7 linked regions of the Homo sapiens genome follow. The protein of the gene in region 1 purifies or fractionates together with the protein of each later gene. This does not show direct contact. Each region holds a gene or a part of one and is shown on either strand. Other genes may lie near its edges.

Evidence for each region.
Region 2: the proteins of AKR1C2 (region 1) and PGM2 fractionate together in Homo sapiens (co-fractionation; one large-scale study listed by BioGRID). This does not show direct contact.
Region 3: the proteins of AKR1C2 (region 1) and CNN2 fractionate together in Homo sapiens (co-fractionation; one large-scale study listed by BioGRID). This does not show direct contact.
Region 4: the proteins of AKR1C2 (region 1) and FAHD2A fractionate together in Homo sapiens (co-fractionation; one large-scale study listed by BioGRID). This does not show direct contact.
Region 5: the proteins of AKR1C2 (region 1) and ACO2 fractionate together in Homo sapiens (co-fractionation; one large-scale study listed by BioGRID). This does not show direct contact.
Region 6: the proteins of AKR1C2 (region 1) and THOC5 purify together in Homo sapiens (co-immunoprecipitation; one large-scale study listed by IntAct). This does not show direct contact.
Region 7: the proteins of AKR1C2 (region 1) and THOC1 purify together in Homo sapiens (co-immunoprecipitation; one large-scale study listed by IntAct). This does not show direct contact.

Annotation. Positions count from the first base shown.
Region 1 is NC_000010.11:4,987,275-4,990,566, forward strand, and holds the end of AKR1C2 (aldo-keto reductase family 1 member C2), read right to left. Parts: intron 2,765-3,292; coding exon 2,722-2,764; 3' UTR 501-2,721; downstream 1-500. UniProt on the Homo sapiens protein: Cytosolic aldo-keto reductase that catalyzes the NADH and NADPH-dependent reduction of ketosteroids to hydroxysteroids.
Region 2 is NC_000004.12:37,843,686-37,847,185, reverse strand, and holds part of PGM2 (phosphopentomutase), read right to left. Parts: intron 2,823-3,500; coding exon 2,633-2,822; intron 1,554-2,632; coding exon 1,456-1,553; intron 256-1,455; coding exon 75-255; intron 1-74. UniProt on the Homo sapiens protein: Catalyzes the conversion of the nucleoside breakdown products ribose-1-phosphate and deoxyribose-1-phosphate to the corresponding 5-phosphopentoses.
Region 3 is NC_000019.10:1,029,608-1,033,107, reverse strand, and holds part of CNN2 (calponin-2), read right to left. Parts: intron 2,038-3,500; coding exon 1,916-2,037; intron 717-1,915; coding exon 650-716; intron 550-649; coding exon 412-549; intron 1-411. UniProt on the Homo sapiens protein: Thin filament-associated protein that is implicated in the regulation and modulation of smooth muscle contraction. It is capable of binding to actin, calmodulin and tropomyosin. The interaction of calponin with actin inhibits the actomyosin Mg-ATPase activity.
Region 4 is NC_000002.12:95,405,708-95,409,207, reverse strand, and holds part of FAHD2A (oxaloacetate tautomerase FAHD2A, mitochondrial), read right to left. Parts: coding exon 3,405-3,500; intron 2,268-3,404; coding exon 2,051-2,267; intron 1-2,050. UniProt on the Homo sapiens protein: Tautomerase that converts enol-oxaloacetate, a strong inhibitor of succinate dehydrogenase, to the physiological keto form of oxaloacetate. It is thereby required to maximize aerobic respiration efficiency by preventing succinate dehydrogenase inhibition.
Region 5 is NC_000022.11:41,524,617-41,528,116, forward strand, and holds part of ACO2 (aconitate hydratase, mitochondrial precursor), read left to right. Parts: intron 1-229; coding exon 230-352; intron 353-576; coding exon 577-732; intron 733-1,182; exon of another isoform or gene 1,183-1,645; coding exon 1,646-1,837; exon of another isoform or gene 1,838-2,671; coding exon 2,672-2,804; exon of another isoform or gene 2,805-3,284; coding exon 3,285-3,406; exon of another isoform or gene 3,407-3,500. UniProt on the Homo sapiens protein: Catalyzes the isomerization of citrate to isocitrate via cis-aconitate.
Region 6 is NC_000022.11:29,515,758-29,519,257, reverse strand, and holds part of THOC5 (THO complex subunit 5), read left to right. Parts: intron 1-137; coding exon 138-252; intron 253-1,891; coding exon 1,892-1,995; intron 1,996-2,141; coding exon 2,142-2,229; intron 2,230-3,500. UniProt on the Homo sapiens protein: Component of the THO subcomplex of the TREX complex which is thought to couple mRNA transcription, processing and nuclear export, and which specifically associates with spliced mRNA and not with unspliced pre-mRNA.
Region 7 is NC_000018.10:223,048-226,547, forward strand, and holds part of THOC1 (THO complex subunit 1), read right to left. Parts: intron 2,357-3,500; coding exon 2,290-2,356; intron 2,093-2,289; coding exon 2,042-2,092; intron 1,948-2,041; coding exon 1,877-1,947; intron 1,154-1,876; coding exon of another isoform or gene 1,133-1,153; coding exon 1,037-1,132; intron 459-1,036; coding exon 393-458; intron 1-392. UniProt on the Homo sapiens protein: Component of the THO subcomplex of the TREX complex which is thought to couple mRNA transcription, processing and nuclear export, and which specifically associates with spliced mRNA and not with unspliced pre-mRNA.

The sequences.
Region 1 (3,292 bases):
CTAATGCTATCATGTCCCCACCATGACACAGTTGCCTAACAAAGCCATTCTCAGAAGATAGCCCAGGCATTATGCAACACATGACTGTCATTGGTGACAGGGAAGGAGTCACTTGTGCCATTTTCAATGTTTTCCTACCAGGTTTATAGCTTTCTATCCTTTATATCCACTGTTACCATTTTGTGAGGTGGCGTGATTTTTTTTTAATGACATTTGGATTCCCTTCTCATTTCCTCTTGCGTATATTCATAATTATTCTCTTTGTGATTGCTGTGGTGATGATGAAAAACTTTATAAAGTTATGACAATTTACTTTAAATCAATATGAATTTAACTTCAGTTTCATCTAAAACCATCCACTTCCCCAGGTTTTCTCCACTTCACATAGTTTTGGTCAGTAATTACAGCTTCCTACATTGCATACGTATTAGCTTAGAATTATACTTATTTCTATACATTTATATCTTAAATTGAAGTAAAATAATGAGTAGAATCCAAAATTTCAAAAATACATGTTTTTATATTTTACCATATGTTCACATTTACAAGAAGTCTTTATAACTCTATATGGCTGTAAGTTACTATTTCCTTTCATTCAACCTGAATTCCTCCCTTCAGCATTTCTTTGAGAGAAAAAATAGGAAAATTAGTGATTGGAGGTCCCTATAAAATTTTCTTACATCTCAAGTGTTCCTGAAATCAGGTGTTTGGCTTTATGAAATTCTGAGTAACTTTTTTTTTTTAACAATAAGAGTTTTATAAAAATGGATGGTGAAGAACTGGAAAAAGCCCACAGCAGCCGTACTATTTACAAATGACTGACCTAATGATTATTTCACATCTTGAAAAAAGAGTTACACGTGCTATAGAGATTTGAAATATGAAAGTCTGCTTAAGCGTTACACACTTGGCTACGAAGTTTTAACAAAATGTCAATCTTTTCTTGACACTTACATCAGTCAAGTTTATGAGATGTGAAATTATCATTCCATAGACTCAGAAAGTTAAGGTAGAACAGGATGGCCATGGTTTACATGAGATTTCTTTGAGACATGCTAAGTGTGAATGTCCATTAAACTTTAACATGGAGATGCAGAGTTCACATTATGATCTTCCATTGAAGATTTGGAGGAAAACGCTGAGCTAGAAATATTTTTTGGTGGATTTCTCAGCCTAGAGGTGATATTTAATGCAGAGAATATCTAAGATCATCAACGGAATGAGAGTAGACCAGAAATAATCCAAAAAATTGGTCTAGGGCCCTCCAAAGTTTATGGCCTCTTCCAATTTTATAGAATAAGTAATTTACAGAAAAATTGTGAGCTGCAAAACTTGCTGGGATGCCTATCAGCTCTGAGACATGGCTTGAGAAGGAATCTCTGATGGGGTTAACATGGCTACCAGAGTACGAATAGTGGAGAGTAAATGTGTTAGAAAGTGTGCCCAGGTAAAAAACCACTGTCCTTCTCATAATGCTTTGATCATTAAGACATGAGATTATCCCAAGTTTTCAAAAGTGTTTTCTAAAACGAAAATCATGTCTTCATGATTAGCTGATTTGATTAGTTCCCCTGAAAATTATGTATAAGAATTAAATGCCTTTGTAAGAGTTCTTCTTAAAATTTACCAAAGTTTGAAACCAGTGTGCTGTTTTACATAGCCTGTTTCCAAAAGACATTTGAAGTCTTGGAACATTTGATTTATTAGATGTATTATTTCCCATTTTAATCTTGAGTGCCATGCATAATGGCTTTGGGATATTTATGTTTTATACTTGTAACTATGCCTTGTTTAAAGTATAAAACATTTAAAAGATTGCATATAACAAATGAACAGTACATTTTTACAATCTAAGAATATTTTCTAAATATGAGCTATTCAGGGGAATGTGATGAGTCAATGATATCTTCGATGTCCTGCCCCACCACAAACCAATAGGGTCAACGTTGTGAATGGGCACACATCAAAGATTCAGGCCTGACTCTCAGCTGTGGGGTTTGTTAAAACAATGTGGAAAGTTTTCTTTTATGAACAAGATATAATGATCAAAAAAAAGGGTGTTGATATGTTTTTCCAAGCAGAGATGTACTCGACTCTGTCCTATTTAGCCTTCCCATACCTGACTTCTAATCACTTTTCCTGGTGCCCTCCCATCTCCCTAACCCCCCCTCACAGGGATGCCTCCTCCCAAGGCTCCAGAAACTCTGACCCTCGCACTGCTGGAGGGAGCCCATGAATTGCTAGTCAATATCGCTCATCCTCTAGACTCCATCCTGCGTGTGCTTCTTCCTACAAGAGCTAGAGAGGCACTGACTGATAAATACCTGTCACCTGCCCCTTTCCCAGAGGGTGAAACTCCACCCACTCCCACTGCAGAAATGAATCTTAAATGGTTGTTAACATCTTCCAACCCCGGCCCTAAACGTATAGGCAAATCACAATTTGGGGGCACTAGTGTGTCAGAAGGAGAGAAAACATAGAAGTTATGGAGACCAAAGTAGGTGAAGAATCTTTAGGAGAGAGCATTTAATTTTTTCAAAATGAAAAACAAAATTATTGTCTTTCTTTTCCGGCCGATGGGCTTAGCTGTAGCTTACTGAAGTCGCCAAGCAGGAGAGATTTAACCAGAGGCGATGTGTCCAGTCACCAGCATAGAGCCATCCTCTGTGTCACCATCCACACGCAGGGCCTTCTGGCAGACCTCATGCAATGCCCTCCATGTTAATATTCATCAGAAAATGGATAATTAGGGGGGCCAGCAAAACTGGAAAGAGAAAAAAAAATGCACACTCTGAATGGCAATGACTCCGTTACTAGCCCGTAGCGCAGTGATTTCTAGGAAGCTGCCGCTAGTGTAGATGTTAAGAAGTTCATTTTCTGACTGCTCTAGAATCTGTGTTTCTTTGTTTAATGAACGTGACTTTATCATATCTGTATTTTCAAAATAAAGAATAATTTAATTCTATTCCCCTGCCTGGAACTTAACACATAAAACACACAAAGTGAAATGTTCAAACATGTTTCTCTACATCTCTCAACAACAGATCCCACATCTGTCAACAAAGAGATATTCTGACCTTTTCTATTTCAAATTCTCACTAAAAACAGGAACTCCTTCTGCCTTACATTGAAGAGGAATAAGGAAGATATATGCTCATCACTAATAAACAATTTTGAGTGTGATAATTATACTGGTAGTAATTGTACTTTATTTTATTACTTTACATATTACTTACTACCTGCCTATCATACGCAACACACTTGGTTAGATTAGAAACGTAAATTATTGTTT
Region 2 (3,500 bases), on another chromosome or scaffold:
AAAGAGAAAGACATGCCTTAGATCTTCTACAGAGCAGATGAAAGGAAAATGAGTGAGTCCCAGAAACACCCTACCTCAAAATGAAAACCTTCCTTTAAGGCAATGGCCCGCAAGATTTTGGAGGAGACGGTGCTGGACAACATGTACGTGTCTTTGAGAGCACTGCGATCCTGGTTCTTCTCTTTCCAAGATGTAAAAAGCCACCAGCCCAGGAGGGCCCCCAACTCATTGCCTGAAAACACCCTCCATTCACCACTGAAAGAAAAAAAAAACAACAACCACCATTCATTTCCATAATCTTAAGGAAGACTCTAAAGTGTCATGGGGATAAAACAATTTAGCAAACAAAGCATCTAAGTATTTTCTGCAAGGCTGTTCTTGTTATTCATCATCTTTAAATAACTGGTCAGAAATGTAACTGCCATTTTACAAACATCTGAGCAGCTACCATATATATCAGCCAGTTTGCCTGAACAGACATCCTGTCTTTGAAGACTGTATAAAATAAGTATGTCACACATGACACACAATGGCTCTATATTAATCTTTGGCAAAGCCTTTGGTTTTAAATATAACAAATATGCTGGCAAGATCCCCCATATATAGAGTAAGTTTTGCTATCTCAATTTCTGGACTGGTCAGTATTGCTGATTCTGAGAGGGGACAGCTCAGTACCCCTTAAGATCAAGCTCAGTCCTAAATGGTCAGAACATCAGAGAAAAGATGTGTAATTTCTGCTTCTCTTGGCAGTCCAGATGGCTAGAAGTAAATCTCACCTATCAGGACGTATCATCTTAGCTTAACTTTCTCAACACTGATATAGAATGGAACCTGTTTTATCACAATCTGAAAACCCTACCATTTCAGCAGCAGCACCCTCCTGCCCCCAAAACATCACATAGGCTACCTGACGCCCAAAATTGCTTGGGCCCTGCCTACCTTTCAACTTTAGCCCCACGTACTTACTTCTCCTTTGTACAAACTCTCTGGTCAGACTTGTCTTAAACACTGTGCCGATACCCCACAGGAATTCCTCCCTGGTCTGTCCAAACTAAATTCAGCATCTCCTTGAAGGTACTGCTCCCTCCTAAACCCCTCAGCAAATACTGAAGCATACAGCTAGCACCAAAGTGCTTTACCCTCATTAGACACTGAGACATTACTTATAAAAAGATCAATTACAAAATGAGAAGTTCCCAAATAGGAGTTTCAATTTGAAATATATACTGGGTTGATTTACTCTGCATTATGCTTGCCAATCACGTAACCTCCCCCCACACTAGATCTCTATCTTGCTCTCCATTAGAAGACTCTACAGGAGGTTCAGTGAAATGATCATTTGCAAAATAAATGGGAAATGTTTCCAAATAGGTCCCGTCTCCCCAGAAACATTTTACCAATGAAGAGATCATCCTTTATATGTTCTATAATATAGGTAATCACAATTAATTTTACCTGTCTTGCTTTTCTGCCACAGCAAGTCTATCAGCATCCGGGTCGTTAGCTAAAACAATTCTGGCCTTGGTTTTGTCAGCCAAAGCAAAAGACAAAGTCTGAAGAAGAATATGAAAATAAAAGATTATTTAATCAAGAATCGAGCATATGATAGTCTTTAAAAACATTCAGTTCCTTAAGAACTCAAGAGGTCTTTCCCCTCTTAGAAAGATAATATAGGACCAACCAAGACAGCTCCAGAAGTGAAATTTAGCAAACAAAAGCTGCAGCTGGTCTTGGTTGGTCACATAGTATCTTCCTAAGTCAGAGGTCAGATAATGGGAGCATCGGTGTGTGACCCAAGCCTACCAGTGTGCCTGCTGCACATGCGCCAGTAGGTCTGTGGTTGGACTGGTATTTCGGGGCATTGCTGTGTGATCAGCCTCACAAATAAAACAAAATAAACTGATTCTCTGAATGCCACTGCTACCCCAACCTTTAAAAATGTTACAGAAACCATAATGTAAGCAACACTTCATATCAGAAAAATGACAAGAAATAAAAATCATAACCTGCTAAAGTTTCACTCTATTACTGCTTCTTTTTGGCATTAAGGAGACACGGCAAATTAAATTAAATTAAATTAACTGAATTTGAAGCACCATTTAGAGCTCAGTTCTCATATCCTGATCCTGGGGTGTTTAATTTGAAAGATCCTTTAAGAAATTAATGACTAACAAATATACATACTTCTTGTTTTTTTTTTTTTTTTTTTTGAGACAAAGTCTCGCTCTGTCACCCTGTCACCCAGGCTGGAGTGCAGTGGTGCAATCTCAGCTCACTGCAACCTCCATCTCTCAGGTTCAAACAATTCTAGCGCCTCAGCCTCCCAAGTGGCTGGGATTACAGGCATGTACCACCACACCCAGCTAATTTTTGTATTTTTAGTAGAGACAGGGTTTTGCCATGTTGGCCAGGCTGTTCTCGAACACCTGACCTCAAGTGATCTGCCTGCCTTGGTCTCCCAAAGTGCTGGGATTACAGACATGAGACGCTGCACCCAGCCAAACATACATATTTCCATGCTGAAATTAGTTTTTCTTCAGCACAATGAAAACACATAAAAATGTATTTTACTTGACAGTAATAGTTTTGAATATAAAAGCAGATTTCATAATTTAAAAAAAAATTAGGTTACCAAGACACCTTTCCCCTCTTCGGGATTCGGGTATTTCACTGTTGGAAACTCAGGATCCGGATCTTTCTGTTCAGGAACAGCCTCAGGAGGAACAAGGTCAAAAGCCTTGAAAGCTGACTGCACAAAGCTATGACCCACCCCATGGACAGAGGTGTGCACAAACTTCACCTTTGTCTCCCTGTTCACGCTCCTAGAATCAGATACACAGTGGAAAATGATACAAGGCAGAAACAGGGCTCTCAAAACTGCAAGGTTTGCAAGAATGCACAAGACAACTGAACATCTTTCTAATTCCATTTCAGAAAAACAAAACGTATCCATTCTCTCCCAGATATATATATTCCTTCCCTCAACATACTCAAGTTTTAAATTCTACTCTGTAGTTATTTTCAGCAAATCTGATTATTTCAGGTTTTGTTTTATGCATCCCATCTAGAGTGAGATACAAAGAAGAACCTCAAGCTCATGTTCCCACACGAGACTCACTGCTGGCCTGACAGGTGCCCTGACAGTGCTACAGCCAGCCCGGGACAGTTCCAGGGCTCCACACACCCACACATCCCCAAAGCGACAGGTTCCCAAATGTCTTTTATCAGCTTCAGAAATGATTTTCAAAATGTCCTTTTTAACAAAATGTGTTGGGTTATCCCATACATAAAGATATAAAAAATAAAACTTTTACTTTGGGAGGCCGAGGCAGGTGGATCGTGTGAGGTCAGGAGTTCAAAACCAGCCTGACCAACACAGAGAAACCCCATCTCTACTAAAAATACAAAATTAGCTGGGCATGGTGGTGCATGCCTGTAATCCCAGATACTTGGGAGGCTGAGGCAAGAGAATCGCTTGAACCTGGGAGGTGGAGGTTGCA
Region 3 (3,500 bases), on another chromosome or scaffold:
CACGGATGCTCAGAAATATTTGTAAACGAGGCCGGGCACAGGGGCTCATGCCTGTAATCCCAGCACTTGGGGAGGCCGAGGCGGGCGGATCACCTGAAGTCAAGAGTTCAAGACCAGCCTGGCCAGCATGGTGAAACCCAGTCTCCACTAAAAATACAAAAATTAGCCAGGCGTGGTGGCAGGTGCCTGTAATCCCAGCTACTCGGGAGACTGAGGCAGAAGAATCGCTTGAACCTGGGAGTTGGAGGTTGCAGTGAGCTGAGATCACGCCATTGCACTCCAGCCTGAGTGACAGAGTGAGACTCCGACTCAAAAATAAACAAACAGAAATTTGCAAACGAGTGAATGCAGCAGCTACATCCACCTCGCTGTGTGACTCTGGGCAGGTGGCTGCCCCTCTCTGGGCCTCACCTTCCCCGCCAGGGCGAGAAGAGACACCTGCACCTGCGTCATGTTCCCACTCTCAAACAGGTCGTTGGCCTCGAACAGGTCCACAGGGTTCATGCCGTAGCTGACCATGGCCTTGATGAAGTTGGACAGGTTTTCTAGCTGGGAAGAGGCAGGAGAGGGACAGTGAGTGGGCCTCAGTCTCCCCACCTGTTAGATGGGCCCCCAGCACCATCCCTGCTCCGCTCCACCAGCCCCTCACCTGGTGCCAGTTCTGCATGGAGCGGTTGATCTTGGGGACGGAGCCCGGCTGTAGCTTGTTCATGAGTCTGGAGGGCACAACATGGGGCGGGGGAAACAGAAACCTCTGTGAGCAGCGAGGAACCGTGAAGACCCGATGCTGATCTCAGCCAAGCTCACGCCTTCCTGGGCAAACTCACGGCCTCTCTCTGGGCCTCAGTTTCCACTCTTTTTTTTTTTTTTTTTGAGACGGCGTCTAGCTCTGTCACCCAGACTAGAGTGCAATGGCACTATCTAGACTCACTGCCACCTCCACCTCCCGGGTTCAAGTGATTCTCCTGCCTCAGCCCTGAGCCTCCCGAGTAGCTGGGATTACAGGTGCCTGCCACCACACCCGGCTAATTTTTGCATTTTTAGTAGAGATGGAGTTTCACCATGTTGTCCAGGCTGGTCTCGATCTCCTGACCTCGTGATCCGTCCACCTCAACCTCCCAAAGTGCTGGGATTACAAGCGTGAGCCACCATCCCAGGCCTCAAGTTTCCACTCTTATAAAGTAATCTTTGGCTGGGTTTGGTGGCTCAGGCCTGTAAGCCCAGCACTTTGGAAGGCCGAGGCAGGCAGATCACGTGACGTCAAGGGCTCAAGACCAGCCTGGCCAACATGGAGCAACCCCATCTCTACTAAATATACAAAAAAAATTAGCCGGGCATGGTGGCAGTCGCCTGTAATCCCAGCTACTCGGGAGGCTGAGGCAGGGGAATCACTTGAACCCAGGAGGTGGAGGTTGCAGTGAGCCGAGATCATGCCACTGCACTCCAGCTTGGGCAACAGAGTGAGACTCCACCTCAAAAAAAAAAAATTATTTATTTAGCCACCACGCCCAGCTAACTTTTTTTTTTTTTTTTTTTTTTTTTTGAGATGGAGTCTCGCTGTGTCACCCCGGCTGGAGTGCAATGGTGTGATCTCGGCTCACTGCAACCTCCGCCTCCCGGGTTCAAGCAATTCTCCTTCCTCAGCCTCCTGAGTAGCTGGGATTACAGGTGCCTGGCTAATTTTTTTGTATTATTAGTACAGACGGGGTTTCACCATGTTGGCCAGGCTGGTCTCGAACTCCTGACCTCGAGATCCACCGCCCCCCGCCACCACCCTCGGCCTCCAAAAGTGCTGGGATTACAGGCATGAGCCAGGCCATGCCCGGCCCCCCAAAAATTTCTTAATTAAGAAAAAAAGTGAGAAAAACCAAGATTTGTTAAGTGTGAGACAGCCTGTGTCCCTGCGTGTACTCACGTGCATAAGATAGTTCCATCCTTCAGGCCCTTCTGGAAGTCGGGGCCGATGGAGAGGCCGGTGAGTCCCTCGATCCAGGTGCGGAGCTCTGCCTCCTTCTGGGGGTCATATTTGGACAGGAGCTGGTGGAGCAAAGGGCACGAGACTGAGCTGGGCTGGGGGCACCCCCAGCAGGAACCCCACAGAAGCTCTGCAGAGGGTGGGGCCGGGGACTCCAGGGCAACAGCAGATAGAGCGGCCTGGAGGTCCCCCCTCACCACACCCACGCAGATGCTCCCTTTTCCCATCATTGGGGGCGCCCCAGCCACTGCAGGCGGGCACAGATAAACCGCCCTCCAAGCAGGCCGACAACCGGCTTAGAACTCACTGATAAACATCAGCTCTAATCCACTCCCGGTGCAGGACAAACCTGGCCGGATCTGCCTCCCCGCCCTGCCTTCTCACCTCCCCGCTATATCACACCTGACGTTTACCACTTCAACCACCTGAAACCGCACCATTTCACAGCATTTCGTACGTCTGCAATGTTGTGCAACCATCAGCTCTTTTTTCTTTTTTATTTTTTTTGAGACAGAGTCTCACTCTGTCGCCCAGGCTGGAGTGCAGTGGTGCGATCTCGGCTCACTGCAAGCTCCGCCTCCCCGGTTCAGGCCATTCTCCTGCCTCAGCCTCCCGAGTAGCTGGGACTGCAGGCGCCCGCCACCAGGCCCAGCTCATTTTTTGTATTTTTAATAGAGACGGGGTTTCACCGTGTTAGCCAAGATGGTCTCCATCTCCTGACCTCGTGATCTGCCCGTCTCAGCCCTCCAAAGTGCTGGGATTACAGGTGTGAGCCACCGCGCCCGGCCCCCATCCTGCTTCTTAGCAACTCCCGAAGGAGCTGCCCCCGAGGCTGACCGCCTCTAGTCACGCACCTGGCTCCTTGCCACCGATTCCCTGCCACCTTTCTGCACCCGGCCATTCCAGCTTTCTTGGCCTTCGGTGCTCTGAGACACCGCCGTGGGGAATGGGCTGTGTGCTCCTGGGCAGTGGGTGTGCACCAGTGGGGACCTCGAGTGTCCCTATCCAGCCACTAGTGACCGCGGAGACAGCACTGAGGCAGACGGCAAAGTGTATAGGGGGCCATAAGCATGGGGGCAGGTCGTGTAGCGGGAGCGGGAGATAAACGCTGGAGGGAGAATAAAGTAGGGTTTGGGCTGGGTGCGGTGGCTCACACCTACAATCCCAGCACTTTGGGAGGCCAAGGCGGGCGGATCATCTGAGGTCAGGAGTTCGAGACTGGCCTAGCCCACATGGTGAAATCCCGTCTGTACTAAAATACAAAAATGAGCTGGGCGTGGTGGTGGGCACCTGTAGTCCCAGCTACTTGGGAGGCTGAGGCAGGAGAATCGCTTGAACCCAGGAGGCAGAGGAGGCAGTGAGCCAAGATCGGGCCACTTCACTCCAGCCTGGAACAGAGTGAGCCTCTGTCTTAAAAAAAAAAAGAAAGAAAAGAGAGAAGGAAAAAAAAAATCAAATCCCTCTCCCTGCTCTGCACCCATCTCCCCAGGTTCCCGCGGACAGCTCCCCACTCAGCCTCCGCTTC
Region 4 (3,500 bases), on another chromosome or scaffold:
CATGGATTGCTTATTACAAAAATAGAAATGCATCTTCACAATGGAGGGACCTAGTGAATGTCAGCTAAACCAAGTGGTCAAATTCTGGGACCACTGACATGAGCCTCCCAGTGGGATACGATGGAAAATGTATAACATCTGCTTTGTAGATCTCTTGATAAAAATGCTTACCCTGACACTAATCATGAAGAAACAACCAGACAAACCCAGAATGTGAAACATGCTATGAGACAACTGGATTCTTCAAGGAAAGGGCAGGGGGTATTGTTTGAGAGCAGGAGTTGGCAAACTATGGCCAGCTCAACATCTGCTATAATCAACTTTGATTGGAAACCCATCATTCATTTCTGTATCGTGGTTTTCACACTATAACAGCAGAGTTGAATTGTTGCAAAACAGAACATATGACACGCAAAGCCTAATATTTACTAATTGGCCCTTGATATGGTTTAGCTCTGTGTCCCCACCCAAATCTCAACTTGTAGCTCCCATAATTCTAACGTGCTATGGGACGGACCCGGTGGGAGATGACTGAATCATGGGGGCAGGTCTTTCCCGTGCTGTTCTCATGATAGTGAATGGGTCTCATGAGATCTGATAGTTTTAAAAATGGGAGTTTCTCTGCACAAGCTCTTTTCTGCCTGCTGCTATCCACCTAAGATGTGACTTGCTCCTCCTTGCCTTCTGCCATGATTGTGAGGCTTCCCTAGCCACGTGGAACTGTAAGTCCAATTAAACCTCTTTTTTTTGTAAATTGCTCAGTCTCGGATATGTCTTTATCAGCAGCATGAAAACAGACTAATACAGCCCTTTAAGAAAAAGTCTATGGAACCCTGTCCTAGATTGAAACCACTAAAGAGATATAACTGAATACAGTGTGTGGCCTTGGTTGATCATGGAGCAACAAACGAAGTAACCAAATTAGAAGTTATCTTTGGGGAAGTCAGCAGTACTTCCGATTGGGAATTGGGGCAATTGGATTTCATATTAAATATTATTCAAGTTAATTTTTTTGGTTGTGATAATGGTGGGATGGTCATGCAAGCCATTGTCCTTATTCTTAGAAGATGCCTATTTACGTTTTTATGACTAAATTGTCTTAATATTTCCAATGTGTTTTAAAAGGTCCCCTCCACCCCATACCCTGCAAAAAAAAAAAAAAAAAAAAAAAATGTGTGTTTGCCATGTGGAGGGCAGGGAGAAGACAAGGGAGAAAAAGGATATATGGCCAAATGTTTACAATGAAACCAGGTGGAAAAGTTATCTGAGTGTTCACTGTATTATTTTCCCAGCTTTTCTATAATTTTCAAGACATTTCTAAAATAAAAATCTGAGAGAAAAAGTAACCAGTGTTAGAAAGGGTATATACACTACTGGTGGATGTGTAAGTTGCTTTTACAATTTTTTAAAAGGCCAATTGGCAGAATTTTTCAAAAATTTTGAAATACTGCCTATACGCTGACATATTTAAATTCCAAAGGGTTTATTCAAAGGAAATAATAATGTATTAATGGACATGCAAAGCCTTTTCCACATAAGGATGTTTACTGCAACATTTATTTATAGAAGCCAAAAACTAGAAACAGTATCCAGCAGTAAGGTACTCAGGAATAAACTAATCTACATAACAAACTCCGTGGTGTCAGGGCGAATACTTAATGGCATGAAAAAATGCTCCTGATGGAGTCTTAAGTAAAAGGTAAGTATATGTACAGTATAAACATATACAGGAGCGGAGAAACACTGGGAAGGTAGACAGAAAAACATTAATATTCCGAGCCATGGGCAGTGGGATTATGGGTGACATAATTTTTTAATGTTTATCTCTATTTTATTATCTACAGTGAAGGTGCATTGCTTTTGTAACCAGGAAAACACGTACATTAACTTTTTTTTTCCAAGGCCAGTGTTACTACTGTGTGTACAATCCTGTAGAGTTTCTGCTGAATGCGCTATTGAGCGAGAGGTGGCTCCAGTAGGCTCAATACTGAGCTCAGAATGCCCTTGTGATGGGCCCAGTGACTAGGGAGGGCAGTGGGGAGACACTGACCTGGCTCTGTGGTGGGAGGACCACCTCATCATAGGGCCCCACGATGGAGCTGGCAAACTTGCTGAAGATGATGGGCTCCTTGGGCACGGGCACGTTCTGTTCTTTGCAGTGGTCCACATAATTCATGCCCACACACACCACCTTATCTGGTCGTGTGACTGGAGCCAGGAAGGTTACCTCCGACCGTGGTAGGACTGGCAACTGGGCAGCCAGGGCTCTGTAGAGACCAGAGCAGGTGAGAGGGTCTGGCTGGGAACAGGTGGGCAATCCCGGGCAGGCTGGGCAGATCCTGCAGCAGCTACAGGTTTTGCTTTTTGAAATCTATTTCCTAGCTCTATCAACCATCAGAGTCAGTGTGAAAATCACTGACTATTGTCCTTTGCTATCAGAGCAGGGCTTTTATTTATCCAGTGTTGATTTCCTCTCCCCCTTAGGTAACTCATGTCCATGTAAAAGATACAAACTGGAATACATGGAAAGGTTTCCCTTTCCCCTTCCGGTTACCCCGTTCCCCTGGCTCTTCGCAGCTACTCTATGGATATTCTTCTCCCACCCTTTTGTATGCAAATGATAGCATACTATTTACATCTTTTAAAAAAACAACTGATTTTGGAGATCTCTGCTTAACAATATGTAACAATACATAGAGAGTGTCCTCTTTATTTCTTGTGGCTGCATATTACTGCTCTATAGAGATATACCCAAGTCCCTAATGAGGGGCATGGAGATTTCCAGTCTTTGCAGAATATGGCAATATGGGAACATACTGTTAATACTGTGAGCTGTGAAACATTTGTATTTTTTTCCATTTTAATAGATGAAAATGACATCTTAAAGTATTTTTAATTTATTGTTCATCAGCTCCTTAGACCAGATTCTATAGGGGTCCAGGCTTCAGGGACACTCTCACCTAATCTAGTCCAAACCCAGGAACCAAGTGTCTTATAGAAAACCTCCTTGCAGTCCTCTCTCCTTGTAGGAGCTGGGAGTCTATATCACTCCCCCAGCTGCATAAGATGCCTTTTAGGACCCCCGGGCCCAGACCCGTCAGTCAGTCCAGGACTTCATTCCCAGAGGAGGCAGTGTGATGAAGTATAGAGTCCTGGTTCCAGCACCACATGTATGGCCTTCAAATTGTTAATCACCTCCCCTAGCTCTCAGTTTTCTCCTCTGAAAACTGAAGATGTTATTATGTAAGATTTCTAAGGATCTTTTAAGAGAACGGGAGAAAAGGAAAGGTGGGGTTACTCTGCTCCCTTGCAAAAGAGCTACCTGCTGGTGCTGTTTCCCAGAGCGGGGAGGGTGCAGGGGGACCAGGGCAGCTGCTTCAGGGCGATGCTGCCCACTTACTTACCTTCTTGCCACTGAGAGGGTGGCCTCTCCCTGCTCTAGGAACTGCGTCATCGTCTTCGGGAGTGTGGGGTCAAAGGCATTGAGGTTGATAACCCCT
Region 5 (3,500 bases), on another chromosome or scaffold:
GGGATGGGAGAGGCCGCACTGCCCTTGGCTTCCTGAGTCCTCTGCAGGCCCAAGGCCCCGTGGTCCCAAAGATCGTCCTGCAGCTCTGGCCTCTGAGGAACACAGGGGTCTGGGAAGAACATGGAAATTTCCTGGGTTCCTTTCTCAGTTTTGGCCTAGGCTTTTGGTAGGTGCAGGAGACAGGAGTGGCAATTGGTGCTGACCAACAAACTGGCCACCTCCATTTCAGATTGTCACAGCCCTGGCCATTGCGGGAACCCTCAAGTTCAACCCAGAGACCGACTACCTGACGGGCACGGATGGCAAGAAGTTCAGGCTGGAGGCTCCGGATGCAGATGAGCTTCCCAAAGGGGTGAGCGCCCACGCCCCCTGCTTGCTGGTTGCTGTGTGGCCACGTCACTTCCTTCTCAACCTCACAGCACCTCCTGTGCAGGCAGGGAGGGCGCTGCTAGTGAGAAGGAAGCAGCTCTGTTCCCTGGGAGGGGAGGTGGGGCCCGAGGAAACTTGCCTTCTGAGAGTCTGTCCTTGTGGGAACTGAGGACTCAGCACCCCACGCATCCCCATTCCCTGCTGCAGGAGTTTGACCCAGGGCAGGACACCTACCAGCACCCACCCAAGGACAGCAGCGGGCAGCATGTGGACGTGAGCCCCACCAGCCAGCGCCTGCAGCTCCTGGAGCCTTTTGACAAGTGGGATGGCAAGGACCTGGAGGACCTGCAGATCCTCATCAAGGTCAGCAGCATGGGGACGGCAGGACAGCCCCACCCTGCCAGGGCCCCCCGTCCCCTGAGCATCGGGAAGGGCCATGAACCTGGAGGAAGTGAGCACAGTCAAGACGCAGGTGGGAGATGGAAGGGAGGTTTGGCTGCAGAGCAGAGAGGGTATCGCAACGCAGTCCAGCGTCCCCCTTCTCTGTGGCCCCGAACTGGGCAGAGCTAGATCTGGCCAGCCTCCGTCTGGGGCCCTCAGCCATCCAGCAGCAGCTGATCAGAGCCACCTCCAGTGGGTGTGGGCAGGTGAGTACAGCTCAGGCTGGGCTGGGACAGTGTGTGTGATTGCACAGCAGGCTCCACACCTGGCACGTCCACACAGGCTCTGGAAGCCATGGACAACTCCTGCCCCCACAGTTGGGCACCCGTGGATATGGGATGGCTTGTGTTTGGCACCGACCAAAAACAAGCCTTTTTGGTGTGGCCAGAGGCCTCCAATCTGTGTCAGATATTTATTTATGCTGCTTATTAAGGGGTCTCCAGGCACCCCTGTGACAGAAGAGACTAATCAGTCATCAGCCAGGACCCAGGCATGTCCTGGGCTCCTGTGTCCAGCATGAGGTCTGTGGCTGATCTTGCAGCTGAGGCCTGAAGGGTGAGCGAACATTGACCTGTCCCAACTTTGGGCGGCCTCTGCCCCATAAGGGAGACTGAGCAGCCAGAGGCCTTTGAGGGGATGAAGGCCTGGCCTGAGCCCATGTGGCCTTAGGGTGGAAGCACCAGGACCACAGAACACGTGTCTGAAGACTTGCCTGCCTCTCACCCCTCTGTCACCCCTCCTGGGCCCCGGGGCCTGCTGCCTGCCTCTGGAGGGCTTGTCATCCACCCCTCCAGGGCCATGCCCTGACCTCTGTCCTCTCTACTTACCACCCAAGGTCAAAGGGAAGTGTACCACTGACCACATCTCAGCTGCTGGCCCCTGGCTCAAGTTCCGTGGGCACTTGGATAACATCTCCAACAACCTGCTCATTGGTGCCATCAACATTGAAAACGGCAAGGCCAACTCCGTGCGCAATGCCGTCACTCAGGAGTTTGGCCCCGTCCCTGACACTGCCCGCTACTACAAGGTGGGTCAGAGTTGATAGGGGCAATGCCAGTGGTCACTCCTGAAGGGGCCTGCAAGGCAGGTGCAGGGAGGACATTAGGGGAGTGGAAACTGGGAAGGAGGCCGACCAAGCCCAAAGGGGACTGCTGTGGAAGGGAGGAGAGGCCTGCAGCCCCTCCCTGTGGCTGAGAAGGCATGAGGCCCAGGTCCGGTGGTACAGCCGGGTCCCTGCACCAGGAGGAGTTAGTGAGAGATATCTTAGGATATCTGGCCCTAGACAAAGACAAGGAAGGGGGCCGACTCAGGAAGTCAGAGGCCAAAAGCTCAGAGAGGGGGCTACACGGGGCCTCACAGTGAGCAGGCAGAGAGGGTCTGAGGTGATTGGACTTTTTCTGCTTTGAGAAACAAACAGAACCAGGGCTGAACCCAAGTCCTGGCCCAGCCGGGTGAAAGGACTCTGGCACCCCCTGGTGGCTGGGTGGGGCAGAGGGTGCTCCCAGGAAGGGGGCGCCTTGAGCTTCACAGATGCATCTTGTGTGGGGCCCGGAGGCCGTCCCTGTCTCACCCAACCTCCCTCCACACACACCTGCCTCTGCCAAGCACCAATGGGTGGCTTCTGTCTTCTTTGCCACTGCAAACAACCACGTGCCTCTGTCCCCTCGGGGCCTCGTTTGGGTCTCATTCACGCAGGCTTCACTTGCCCTTAGGCAGCAGGCGAGGAAGGGCCCCTCCAGCCCCTTTACCGGGAGCCTCAGGATGCCCAGGCGCCAGGTGGGTGAGGCCAGGCAGGTAGGGCCAGACAGGTGAGGACGGTGCCCTCCTCTGCCTTATAACCTTACCCCCGCTTGCCTGACAGAAACATGGCATCAGGTGGGTGGTGATCGGAGACGAGAACTACGGCGAGGGCTCGAGCCGGGAGCATGCAGCTCTGGAGCCTCGCCACCTTGGGGGCCGGGCCATCATCACCAAGAGCTTTGCCAGGATCCACGGTGAGCTGGAGTCTGTACCCAGGCCATCCTCATCCCATCCCTAGTGATCAAGGTCACTCTCCCTGCCCGTGGCTGAGTTGGGCCTGGTTCTAGGCTGTGTCCACTGCAGCCCACAGGCCCGTCAGCCTCTTGCCCCTTCTTAGGCTCACACAGTGCACATCCGACGCTCAGCTTCCCGGCTTCCCGCAGGCCCTGCTTCCAGGCTTGTAGATCTGAGCCGCTGAGATCTAGGACATGTGCCAGGGGGTTCTTTCTGATCATGAATGTGCAGCAGGAAGGCCTCGCAGACCTCAGCACCAGCGCACACTTGCTAGGGGCACCCCTAGTGAAAGGGAGCAGACCAGGGCCCCATAGTCACTGCCCGGGCATTGTCCCAGGCAGCAGGATTAGGGGCATCTCCCAGAGCCCCAGATGGGTTCAGAAAATGAAGCTCTCCAGGCTAGTCAGGCCCCCGATGACCGAATGCCGCCTGCTTTCCAGAGACCAACCTGAAGAAACAGGGCCTGCTGCCTCTGACCTTCGCTGACCCGGCTGACTACAACAAGATTCACCCTGTGGACAAGCTGACCATTCAGGGCCTGAAGGACTTCACCCCTGGCAAGGTTAGGGGCCCGGGTCCCCCTGAGGTGGTGGGGTGAGGGGCAGCCACCTTGTTTCCCCTCCTGCACTGGCCCCAGGGTAGCTTCTCCCAGGAGG
Region 6 (3,500 bases), on another chromosome or scaffold:
TTGCCATGTCTAAAGGGTACCCATCTTGGGGCATGGATAATCCAGGGTGCCGCAGACAGGCAGGTCCCAGGAGAGAGATGGTGCCCGGAGGAAGGGATGGGGGAGCACACGTGTATGTGTCTCATTGTCACTCACAGCAAACAGTGATTGCTGACCACTCGCTGAGCGCCAGCCACATGGAGACCACCATGAAACTTCTGAAGACCAGGGTGCAGTCCCGCCTGGCCCTCCACAAACAGTTTGCATCCCTAGGTAAGCTGATGATGGGGCAGTGGTTTAAGAGTCACTCAGACAACACACGGACAACAACAACTTAGCCTTTCACTCAAAACTTGAATCCTGATGACAAATACAAGACCTGGATTCCTGGCTTTACGGAGTGGGCATCTTGGCAGAGCCACTGGGGAGAGCTCCAGGCCTGTCCAGGCAGAGGACCGAGCTCCCCCTTAGAGCCATCAGTGCTGTCCTGCCTCACAGAGGAGGCCCAGAGCCATTGGGTGGCACAAGTTTGTGGACTGGTCGGGGCAGTTCATCCTAGGTCATGCATTGCAGATTTTGATGTGCATTCGACACATATTTAGTGAGATCCTGATTCATGCCAGGCACTGAGCATAGTGCTGGGGGAAGAACTGAGCACAGTGAACCCCTGCCCCTGGCTCTGTGGCTCACAGTCAGCTTTTTGAATATAGCTATCCAGGGAGCAACTCGCATATCCCTTCCCCAAGGCCTACTGACCTCGTGTTCCCCAGGGTGAGGCTGAGCCTATGTTTTCTTCTAAGCTCCCAAGTGATAATGATGAGCCACTGACTTAGGTGGTGGCATTTGGGGGCTTCTTTTAGTTTATTCACTCAGTAAGTGGTTGTCAAATGCTTACCATGTGGCAGGGGGATGGGGTCAAGATTTTTCTGACCTAAAAGAGTCTCTGGGACAGGCGCAGTGGCTCTTGCCTGTAATCACAGCACTTTGGGAGGCCAAGGCAGACAGATCACTTGAGGTCAGGAGTTCAAGACCAGCCTGCCAACATGGTGAAACTCCGTCTCTACTAAAAATACAAAAATTAGCTGGGCATGGTGGTGTGCACTTGTATTCCCAGCTACTCAGGAGGCTGAAGCAGGAGAATTGCTTGAACCTGAGAGGCGGAAGTTGCAGTGAGCTGAGATCGCATCACTGTATTCCAGCCTGGGCAACAAAGCGAGACTCCATCTCAAAATAAAAAGTAAAAAATAAAAAAGAGTCTCTGTCAGGAAAGGCATTGGGTTTCCAGGACACATCTGGAGACCACTCCCCACCAGTTCTTAGACTCCACATGGCTGCCGATCTCTCCAGAGCACTGATGTTTGTCCATCGGGCCGTGCTCCCCATCAGCACTGCTGAGTTTGTTTTGTCCCAAGGTAGGGAACTTGTCATTCTGGACAGTACTTACTGTGTTGGCATATTTGCTTATTTAAATGCCAGCAGGAATTTACCCTGGAGCAGTTATCTGGCTCTTCTCCCTGACACACAACACTTCAGTTGTTTCCTCCATCAAGGTCAGCTATGAAAACACAGGCCTCTATGCTATTTGATCTAATTAACAGTCACTGCTGCAGGGGCACCCTCCCTAGTTCTGACTGTAAGGGTTTTTCTTTGGCAGGCTATCATTTGCATTAAAGAGAAAGCACCATAAGTGCTGGCACTGGATCTGGCCACAAGCACATAGCACTGGGTGAAGGTCAGGTTGACATGCTTGCATTCCTGGCACGTGTTGACCTGGGTACTTCCTGAGTACCAGGTATACCAGGATAGCTGGCCGGGCCATCTGAGCCCTTCAGAGAGCCCCAGGAGGATGCTAGTTACCCATCTGTGGCACCTGATTTCTACCTGTGACGTCATCTGTCTTGTTCTCTTTTAGAACATGGCATTGTGCCAGTTACCAGTGATTGCCAGTACCTCTTCCCTGCCAAGGTTGTCTCTCGCCTGGTGAAATGGGTGACAGTTGCCCATGAGGATTACATGGTAGGTGAAGGAGTGACAAGTTACCCTTACTGTCCTGAGGATTGCAGGACCATGTCACCTTTCAGCTCCTGCCACCTCACTGGAAGAGCAGGGGGTTTAACCAGAGGAGCCAGCAGTTCACCTCTTGTCTGTGGTACCTCTTCTAGGAGCTGCACTTCACCAAAGACATTGTGGATGCGGGACTGGCTGGGGACACCAATCTCTACTACATGGCGCTCATCGAAAGGGGCACAGGTAATTGCTCTGCTGATTACAGGGGTTCTAGACAAAGGGCGCTGCCAAGAATCAAACACTCTCCGGGGCTGCCCAAAGCAGAAGATCCTGGAGTCCTGCAAGGACTTAACAGATAATAATGATCGTGAGAGCCTGTTCAGCAAGGACTCATTCTGCAACACAGTCACACACACGCTGTGTATCACTGAACCCTCACTGCAGTCCTAGGGGTGGTGCTTTCATTTCTATTTTACATGGGAGGAAATTCAGGCTTAGTTGCAAGCCCAGTCTGAGCGCTGAGCCTGAGCTCTTTGCTCCTTCCTTCACCGCTTTCTAGTACCGGACATCTCCTCCTTCTCCCTCTTCATAACAGGGCTGAGGTGTCACCCTCAGGTTGTAAAGGGCAGGGCCACAGGGCCTCGCTCCCTCTTCTGCAGTCCCTGCACTCACTTTAGAGGCATTGAAAGCTCTGATTCTTCATACCTCTTCTGGCATCTGACTCTGCCAGGGCTCCCTGCTGAAGTCCTGGGATGTTGTGTTTGGGCCGTTGTGCTGTTGTCCCACCCAAGCCGCAGCAAGCCTGGCACTGCCCGTGGGATCTGACACCCTCAAGACTTGGTGCTGAGCTGAGGAAGTTGTCTGTAGTTCTAAGACAGTTCCAGAACTGTAAGGAAAGGCTGAACTCTTTGGTATCAGAGTTTCTGTCCTCACTACCCCACTTTCTTCTCTTTCTATTCTTCATGTCTTTTAAAAAAAAAATTCTGAAGAAACTGAATATTTCAGATACAGTTGAGGCCTCCCTATCCCACTTTATTCCCTTTCTCCTAATAAGTGACCACTATTTGGATTTTATGCATTTGCTTTCCATCCTTTCCCCGCTACACCCTTTTTTTTTTTTTTTTCAGTAGAGATAAGGTCTTGCTTTGTCGCCCAGGCTGGAGTGCAGTGGCACGATCATAGCTCACTGCAATCTTGAACTCCTGGACTCAAGCAATCCTTCTTCCACCTTAGCTCCCTGAGTAGCTGCGACTACAGGTATGCTACCATGCTCAGCTAAGATTTTTTGTTTTTGTTTTTGTTTTTTTGTAGAGGCATGTTCTTACTATGTTGCCAAGCCTGGTCTCAAACTCCTGGCCTTTCTTCCAAAGTGCTGGGATTGTAGGCATCAGCCATCATGCCTGGCCTCTCCCCTTTCAAAATTTAATTTAACTTATTTTTTGAGACAGGGTCTTGCTCTGTTGCCTAGACTGGAGTACAGTGGCTCAGTCATGGCTCACTGCAGCCTCAACTGC
Region 7 (3,500 bases), on another chromosome or scaffold:
TTAATTCTTACTTTACCTATGTCTAGACTGCTATTAAACTTGCCCATTTTGCAAGTTCAACGAACTTTTGTGACTATTAAAACCCAAGTTCCCTGGTTCTCAAAGCTGGCAATCATTAGTACTGCTGCCCTAGAACCGTATCAGTTCATAGGCTTACTCTTCTGTTTGTAGTTTTGATTCCTTTTGTGAATCTTTATTTTTTTGTGATTTCTAAAATTATTTTATCAGCACTTTGAGGAGTTTTATGGTGGGAAGTTACACGCTGCTGTGCCAAAAGTCAACCACAATAAACTTTTAAATTTCATTTGAGCTCTGATCATAGCTGAGAAAAGGCTCCATTCTACTCAACACTTGACAAAAGCAACACTTCATTTGAAAAATGTTCAACTTGCCTTGTCTCTGATTTACAGGCTTCCATATTATCAGGGCAAAGATTCCAAAGCCTTGTTAACTCCTCACTACAAAATAGACACAGAAATAAATACATTTTTTATGGACACCATCCTCATGTGCCTTGAAACTGAACAGAAAAACAATACAATGTAAACAGTGGATTTGGGGATGTTGACAGTATGAGTTTTACTTTTCTCAATAATTTTTGGTATTTAAAATACCTAAAATTATTCTCTATATGAGCATATAATCATTAATCATGACTAATGATAATGATATAATCTTTAGTTTTTTCTAAAAATATTCCAGCACAATATAAAGCAATGAATAGTTAACTGGAAGGTAAGAGAACTCAAGGATTATGGTACCTTGCAACAACTGGAATCTAAACAATTCTACTGTCTGAAACGGAAAAAATGGCACAGCCTAGAGACACAGATTTTGGAAGCTGGAGACAAAATGAAGGTTTATCTGGTGCATGAACCCACACAATGGGCAGTATAGACAGTGCGGTTTGCTTTGGCTATCTATGTGTGTACCAAACACAATCTCATACTATATTTTGGATGGAGAGTTCTTAAAGTAACATCTTCAAAATATAAAAATAACTAAGAACATCCCACATGAAGACAAATTCACCTACTTTCCCATCAGAATTTTTTTGGTGGGTCCTTTCCCTAGGAAGTCCTCGGGTGCTGTTCTCTTCCGAATTATTCTCGTAGGTTTGGTATCTGATGTTCTGTCGTGAACAAAACATACACTATTTTTTGAATTACAAATGGATAACAGAAATAGAAGAATGTTTAACGTAAAAGAAAATTTAGTTATTGTTTTCCTCTTAAAAAAGATGAAAACTGGCTGGGCATGGTGGCTCATGCCTGTAATCCCAGCACTTTGGGAGGCTGAGGTAGGTGGATCACCTGAGGTCAGGAGTTTGAGACCAGCCTGGCCAACATGGTGAAAGCCTGTCTCTACTAAAAATACAAAAATTAGCCAGGCATGGTGGTAGGCGCCTGTAATCCCAGCAACTCAGGAGGCTGAGGCATGAGAATCGCTTGAACCCAAGAGGCGGAGGCTGCGGTGAGCCAAGATCATGCCACTGCACTCCAGCCTGGGTGACAGAGTGAGACTCCCTCTCAAAAAAAAAAAAAAAATGAAAACTTCATATTATGATAGAACAATTATCAGATATAAGATAAAAATGCCACATTATATGGCAAATTACACGGAGTAGATATACAGTATTCTTCTCAATAATAAGATGTTTGTTCCAGGAATTTAATGACAAGAAATTTATGAGGTTTAAAAAATACAGAGGTAAATCAAAGTGGTTGTACTCTTACAAAGTTCAACTTACATTTTTTATGTGAAATATATACATGTATTTTTACATGCTATAATCATATCGGAGCACATTTTCAAAAGCCTTTCTCGTCGTTCTTGTGATGAGTATGTATTTACCTTTCTTTCAGTATGTATTTACCTTTCTTTCACAAAACTTGGGCAACCTTCATTTTTCCACGAGTTCCAGTTTTCTTCAGTGTTTAATATATGCTGGGAAAAACAAAGCGATTACATTTTGGTTAGTGGAATCCTCTGAAGTTCTATTTCGTGCTAAGAAGAGGATGTAAGCATAAAAAACACATACCTCTACCATCTTTGAAAATCTTTCTCCATCGGGGGGGTTTTCAGATAGTAGCTGTGATTAGAAAGAATATACTAAGCTTTCAACAACTTTCTGCATCATAGGAGTGGTTTGTAGGCAGAGAACCAAGGAGTGTTTGTGGTCTTGTACCTGAGCTTAACTTTATCCTTATTTTCCTATTTGGGGCTGAAACAAAGAAAATCCTAAATTTCCATTTTTTCAATCATGGGTTTGTTGCGTGTTGAACTTACTTGATAAACTGATTTTGTAGTATCTTCAATCCAAAGTGATTGCTCATCAGTTAAAACATAGTTTGAACTAGGGAACAAAGCAATGAAAGCATGCTTGAGTTACAGCAATGCATATGCAACTTTAAGGTTTAAAAAACACAAGGCATGTAACATGTAACTATACTGTGGATAGTGTCAAAAATTACCAAGACAAGAATAATCACAAATGAGAGGATTATAAGAGAAAATTCTTGCACTTCTTCCTCAAGAGGGTTGGTACTGAAGACATAAAAGCATATGCAGGGAATAAAACATTCAATTAATCAATCAGATTCACTATGAACAGAGCAATATATGTTTCCTAAAATAAGCTGAGTGTGAAACGAAAACTTCTGATTTGATATTAAGATATGTGTATACATGATGCACATTCAGTATGGCATGCTACATTAAGATTCATTCAAAATACAACGAATAAAACACCCAAACCCTAGAAAAGGCAACAGGCAAACCCAAATTGTTAATAGCTGCCACTAACTGAGCTCTCATAATGCACTAGGTGATTTAAAGACATCCAATAAATATTGATGGCTAGGATCTGAACACTTTACATACATTATTCATTGAATTCTCGGAACAAGTACATGTACATATTAAACAGAGACTACCGTGTCTCACTGATTTGCCCAAGGCCATAAAGATTTAATTCAAACCCACGTCTCACTTCAAAGTCCCTCATCTTCCTACTATGCTATACCAAACCTCCAAAATAGATAGAAGGATAAGAAATAACATTTTTTGAGTGTTTACCATGTGCTACTACCTTAAAATTACAAGTCTGAAAGAGCTGCACTGCAGCCAGCAAATGACGAGCCTGGGATTCAAACCCAGCAGGTAGTGAAGTCATTATACAACTAATACGGCATTGCTCAGTGTCCTTAACACAAATACCGTTAAGTAACAGTGGGCTCCACCTTCAGTTATGGACAGGATAGGAGGAAATGGATGGAAGTATTTAGATAGACAGTAGAGAGCCTAATGAGGTTTTGTGAAACCCCAAATAAATGAACTCCTTTTTGCTTAAAAATTTTCTTTGCATCTTTTAGCTTGAATGTCCTGCAGAGCTCCACACCTTGTGAGATATGTATTACTGGCTTAGTCTGCAAATCAGCTTTGGAGGAGGTCTGAGGGAGGTGAGAAGGGAATGACGGAATTTTGGAGCAGAGACCTCC